2 separate regions of the Homo sapiens genome follow, and region 1 is linked to region 2. A link means that fine-mapping ties the variant in region 2 to the expression of a gene that starts in the linked region. Tissue or cell type: whole blood. Region 2 holds a variant in brackets; the other region holds the start of a gene. All regions are shown on one strand. Distances are from middle to middle.

Region 1 (2,682 bases), 110 kb after region 2:
TCAGAATAGAATTTCAGAAATCCCTTCTGTCCACTACTCTTAAAGCATCACAGGCTGAGACCACCTCTTAGATTTCATTCTTCCCACCATACTTTCCCCAATTCTTACCTGTCCATAAGGTGCTATCCAGAGCCACACTGCATCTGCACCCAGCACCATACCTAAAGAGATCAGGTACAGATTTTAATTCATTGTTCCACGGTTCTTTTTTTTAAAGAGTGTTCTTTAAAAAAACGGTTCGTCTTTTTAAACCAATGATGCAGGTAACATACCATTCATTATCTAGCGACAGGTAAAGGATACACTTAATGTTACAAAGAAGCACTGCACCCGCAGTTAAGAACCACCGATGGCGGCCGGGCGCGGTGGCTCACGGCTTGTAATCCCAGTATGTTGGGGGACCACGGCTGGTGGATCACCTGAGGTCAGGAGTTCAAGACCAGTCTCGCCAACATGGTGAAACCCCGTCTCTACTAAAAATATAAAAGCCTAGCATGGTGGCGCGCGCCTGTAGTCCCAGTTACTTGGGAGGCTGAGGCAGAACTGCTTAACTCGGGACGCGGAGGTTGCCATTAACCGATGTCGAGCCACTGCATTCCAGCCTGGGTGACAGAACGAGGCTCGGTCTCAAAAAAGAAAAAAGAAACACTAATGGAAATATTGGTGACACTGCGGAATGCAGGCACTTAAGCACGTGGACTACCACCGACAGCCTTTCATGAGAGCGGACGGCTGATGGAGGCTCGGGTCACGGCCCTTAACAATAGCTTACTCGGGTGACTCGGCATGTGCCACCATCAGAGCGGTTGGCATTCATCATTACTCTCAGATGTCCCTACCAACACAGGCTTCATCAGAGGCAGGGCACGAGAGCCGAGGCTTCTCCGCAGTTCTACTCTAACATAGTCGCAGCTTAGGTCACGCATGCACCATATGTGCAATCCCCCACCATCCTCAACTTGTAGGCCCTGCAAAGGCGCGCGACTGGCTTAGAAGTCCCAGTCAATTCAGGGTGACCTTAGCAGACAAAGGCTGGAGCGCCCCAAAACCCGCAACATTCGCAAAGATAAAACATACCTCACAGGAGTCGACTCCTACCTCGAAAAGACAGTATGGTGCCTGGGCTCCTGTATATAAGAGTTCTTTTGATGACGTCACGACGCACGCTCCCGGCAGCGTCCGCTTCGGCTCCTCCCCCTAACCTCCCTCAATCTTCCTCTCATCCAGTATCACCTTCTTCCCACCCCTTAAGTCCGCCCCTTTTCCCCGCCCTTCCTCGCCATTGTGGGCAGAGACATGACCGTCCACGTGATGCCGTGCTCCCGCCCTCCTCCCGACTGAGGAGGAAGAGCAGAGAGGGGAGGGGGCGCGAGGCAAGGAAAGCTCTGGGGATGGGGGAAGGGGGGGCGGTGTAAGGCTGAGTGATTTCCTTCCGGCACGTCGCCCGCTCCGTGGGAGGGGGTGGGGGATTTCACTTCCGGGACGGTGTTCCGGCCCATTCCGGCCCATTTCCACCCCCGGAGGTAGGTGCTGCTCCTTGACTGGACTCGGGCCCCACACCCCAGTGCCACTTCCCTGCACCGGGGTCACCTCGCCCGCCCTCCGCCGCAGCGCGCTCCTGGGGCGCTCAGCTACTTTCCTTCACCCCGCCTCCAGGCACCGGGCGACCTTCCACCCCCTTGGCCCCCGGCCGGGCTGATCTGCCGGACCCGCCCCCTCGCGGGGCCCCTCCCTCAGGACCCCGGGAAGGGCGGCCCCCTCCCCCACCGCAGCCGGGACACACCCAGATACGCACACCCACCTCCTGGCAGCTCCCCGCCCGCCGCCGCCTGGAGCCGGTCCCTGGGCGCCGCCCCCTTCCTAGTTCTCACCTGAGCGCTGGCTCCCCCGCCCGACGCCTTGTCCCCATCTTCTCCGAAGTTCCTCAGTGACATTTTGCCCTTTAGCCAGTTCCCCTCTCCCCAGGCTTCCTAACGCAGAAGAAAGCTGCTCAAGTGCTGGAGTGGCCAACCCCATGCCGTTCCCAATTCTCCCTTTTACAGCTCTCACCCCTCCAGTGCCGACGGTAGCGAAAGACTTTCCTCCAGGGGCTTCCTCACTGGGGAATTGCCGGAAAGAGCAAACAAAAAAGGCGCTGGTGTAGGCTCCAAAATAAACACATCTGAATTCATGATGGCATCGACAGAGGCTCTTATTGGATTAAAAGTTTCAAAACAAACAATAACGCTTTGGAAAAAGGTCAGATTGGCTAAAGTTGATTGTTGAAAACAGTGTATACACTTCCCTATTTAATAAGTGTGTTGTTAATGCGGGGCAGTACTGTGAGCTTGGCAGAGTAAGTTCCTGAAGTTTCAGGTGTGGTGTAACTATGTAATATATAGATAAGTGAACGCACATTGGGCTTAAGTAAATGTCTTCCTGTTCGGATTTATACAAACTATTTTCAGTAGTTGAAACTGTACTTTCAACTATCTTGTATACAGCTTCAGGTTTAGTGTTTCAGCCATTTTTTAAAAATATTTTAATGGAAAAATGTTGGCATACTTGGTAAATGCTGTATTTTTTCATCGGATCTGGAGAACTAAGTTTCAGGATGGAAGTATTCATCACCACCTCGGAATTGCCAACTTCGAATTTGGCAGATTTACCCAGCTTTCCTAATTTTGACAACTGAACTTCACA
Region 2 (2,682 bases):
CCCGGGAGAAACCCCAAATATTGGGAGTGCCCCAACTGCAGAAATGGGAAAGGGAGACCCTCCTCTCCCAAACACACACCCCCACTGGAGAAGCTGAAGGTCTGTTTGCAGGAGAAGTTTCCAACTTTACCTGGAGCTGAGTCAAGTTAGAGAGGCAAGCGAAATAACAGGGGTAGAGGAAGCAGCAGAAAGGCCCTGGGAGTTTGCTGGGTCCCCAAGCAGGCCATTCCTGCCTGGCACCACAGGGATCCATTGGGAGGGTGGCCAGAGGAGCAGGGGATAAAACTCCCCAGGGAGAAGGAATTCTCTAGCTGAACTTTGTAACAATTTGAACAGGGTGAGAAGCCTCCTGACCAGAACTCAAGGTAGGGTGCAAATCCTGCATGCAGACTTCACCGGCAGGGGGAAAACTAAAGCCCTTTTCTCTTGCAGCTGGGAGGCGGATAGCCTGGGGCAAGCCTGCTGCCCGCCTGTGGCCTGGAAACAGACTCAGAGTTGTGAGAGGGGCACGGTGGGAGTGAGACCATGGGAGTGAGACCAGCCCTTCAGTTTGTGTGGGAGCTGAGTGAGGCCTGTGACTGCCGGCTTTCCCCCACTTTACTGACAACCTGCATGACTCAGCAGAGGCAGTCATAATCTTCCTAGGTACACAACTCAAGTGACCTAGGAATCTCTTCCCCCATCCCCAACAGCAGTCGCAACAAGACCCGCCCAAGGAGAGTCTGAGCTCAGACATGCCTAATCCTGCCCCCACCTGATGGTCCTTCCCTGTCCACCCTGGTAGTGGAAGACAAAGGGCATATAATCTTGGGAGTTCTAGGACCCCACCTACCACCAGTCTCTCTCCACACTACTACAGCTGATGTTTTCTGGAAAGCACCACCTCCTGGCAGGAGGCCAACCAACACAAAAATAGGGTATTAAACCACCAAAACTAAGGATCCTCACGGAGTCCATTGCACCCTCCACCAGAACAGGTGCTGGTATCCACAGCTGAGAGACCCATAGATGGTTCACATCACAGGACTCTGTGCAGACATCCCCTACTACCAGCCCAGAGCTGAGTAGACTTGCTGGGTGGCTAGACCCAGAAGAGAGACAGCAATCACTGCAATTTGGTTCACAGGAAGCCACATCCATAGGAAAAGAGAGAGAATACTACATCAAGGGAACACTTCGTGGAACAAAAGAATCTGAAC[G/A]ATAGCCTTCATCCCTAGACCTTCCCTCTGACAGAGCCTACCCCAATGAGAAGGAACCAGAAAACCAACCCTGGTAACATGATAAAACAAGGCTCTTCAACACCCCCAAAAAATCATACTAATTCACCAGCAATGGATCCAAACCAAGAAGATTCCCTGATTTACCTGAAAAAGAATTCAGGAGGTTAGTTATTAAGCTAATCAGGGAGGGACCAGAGAAAGGCAAAGCCCAAGGCAAGGAAATCCAAAAATGATACAAGAAGTGAAGGGAGAAACACTCAAGAAAATAGATAGCTTAATGAAAAAACAAAAATTCAGGAAACTTTGGACACACTTTTAGAAATGCAAAATGCTCTAGAAAGTCTCAGTAATAGATATGAACAAGTAGAAGAAAGAAATTCAGAGCTCAAAGACAAGGTCTTTGAATTAACCCAATCCAACAAAGACAAAGAAAAAAGAATAAGAAAATATGAACAAGCCTCCAAAAAGTCTGGGATTATGTTAAACAACCAAACCTGAGAATAATCGGTATATCCGAGGAAGAAGAGAATTCTAAAAGCCTGGAAAACATACTCGGGAGAGTAATCAAGGAAAATATCCCCAGCCTTGTGAGAGACCTAAACATCCAAATACAGGAAGCACAAAGAACACCTGTGAAATTCATCACAAAAAGATCTTTCCCTAGGCACGTTGTCATCAGGTTATCCAAACTCAAGATGAAGGAAAGAATCAAGAGCCATGAGACAGAAGCACAGGGTAACTTATAAAGGAAAACCTACCATATTAACAGCAGACTTCTCAGCAGAAACCCTATAAGCTAGAAGGAATTGGGGACCTATCTTCAGCCTCCTCAAACAAAACAATTATCAGCCAAGAATTTCGTATCCAGTGAAACTAAGCATCGTATGTGAACGAAAGATAAGCCGTTTTCAGACAAAGAAATGCTGAGATAATTCGCCATTACCAAATCACCACTACAAGAACTTCTAAAAGGAGCTGTAAATCTTGAAAGAAATCCTGGAAACACATCAAAACAGAACCTCTTTAAAGCATAAATCACACAGTACCCATAATGCAAAAATACAAGTTAAAAAGCAAAAACACAAAACAAAACCAAAGTACATAGGCAAGAAAGAGCACTACGAAAGTAAAGTAACGGTACCTCACATTTCAATACTAACATTGAATGTAAATGACCTAAATGCTCCACTTAAAAGGTACAGAACCGCAGAATGGATAAGAACTCACCAACCATCTGCTGCCTTTGGGAGACTCACCTAACACATAAGGACTCACATAAACTTAAAGCAGTGGAAAAAGGCATTTAATGCAAATGGACACCAAAAGCGAGCAGGGGTAGCTCTTCTTATATCAGACAAAACAAACTTTAAAGCAACAGTGGTTAAAAGAGACAAAGAGGGACAGTATATAATGGTAAAAGGCTTTGTCCGACAGAAAAATATCATAGTCTTAAACATACATG

What was found. PIP is the estimated chance that this variant, and not a neighbour inherited with it, causes the effect.
Region 1: GAS5 starts here. The variant in region 2 is fine-mapped to the expression of GAS5 in whole blood (TOPMed, PIP above 0.99).

What each region holds. Positions count from the first base shown.
Region 1 is chr1:173,866,883-173,869,564 of GRCh38, forward strand. It overlaps GAS5 (growth arrest specific 5), which reads right to left and starts at 1,107. Exons shown (of 12, transcript NR_002578.4): 1 at 1,078-1,107; 2 at 109-161. ZBTB37 (zinc finger and BTB domain containing 37) reads left to right here and starts at 1,498. Exons shown (of 5, transcript NM_001122770.3): 1 at 1,498-1,523; 2 at 2,043-2,238. SNORD74 (small nucleolar RNA, C/D box 74) reads right to left here and starts at 863; the gene lies at 792-863. It overlaps SNORD75 (small nucleolar RNA, C/D box 75), which reads right to left and starts at 56; the gene lies at 1-56. RefSeq lists a silencer at 1,533-1,942 and an enhancer at 1,577-2,682.
Region 2 is chr1:173,758,523-173,761,204 of GRCh38, forward strand. The region is part of intron 7 of KLHL20 (kelch like family member 20); the gene reads left to right. Among named protein-coding and RNA genes, the nearest start is that of KLHL20, 45 kb to the left of the region's middle. RefSeq lists an enhancer at 412-912. The variant G/A (reference allele first, on the strand shown) is at 1,200.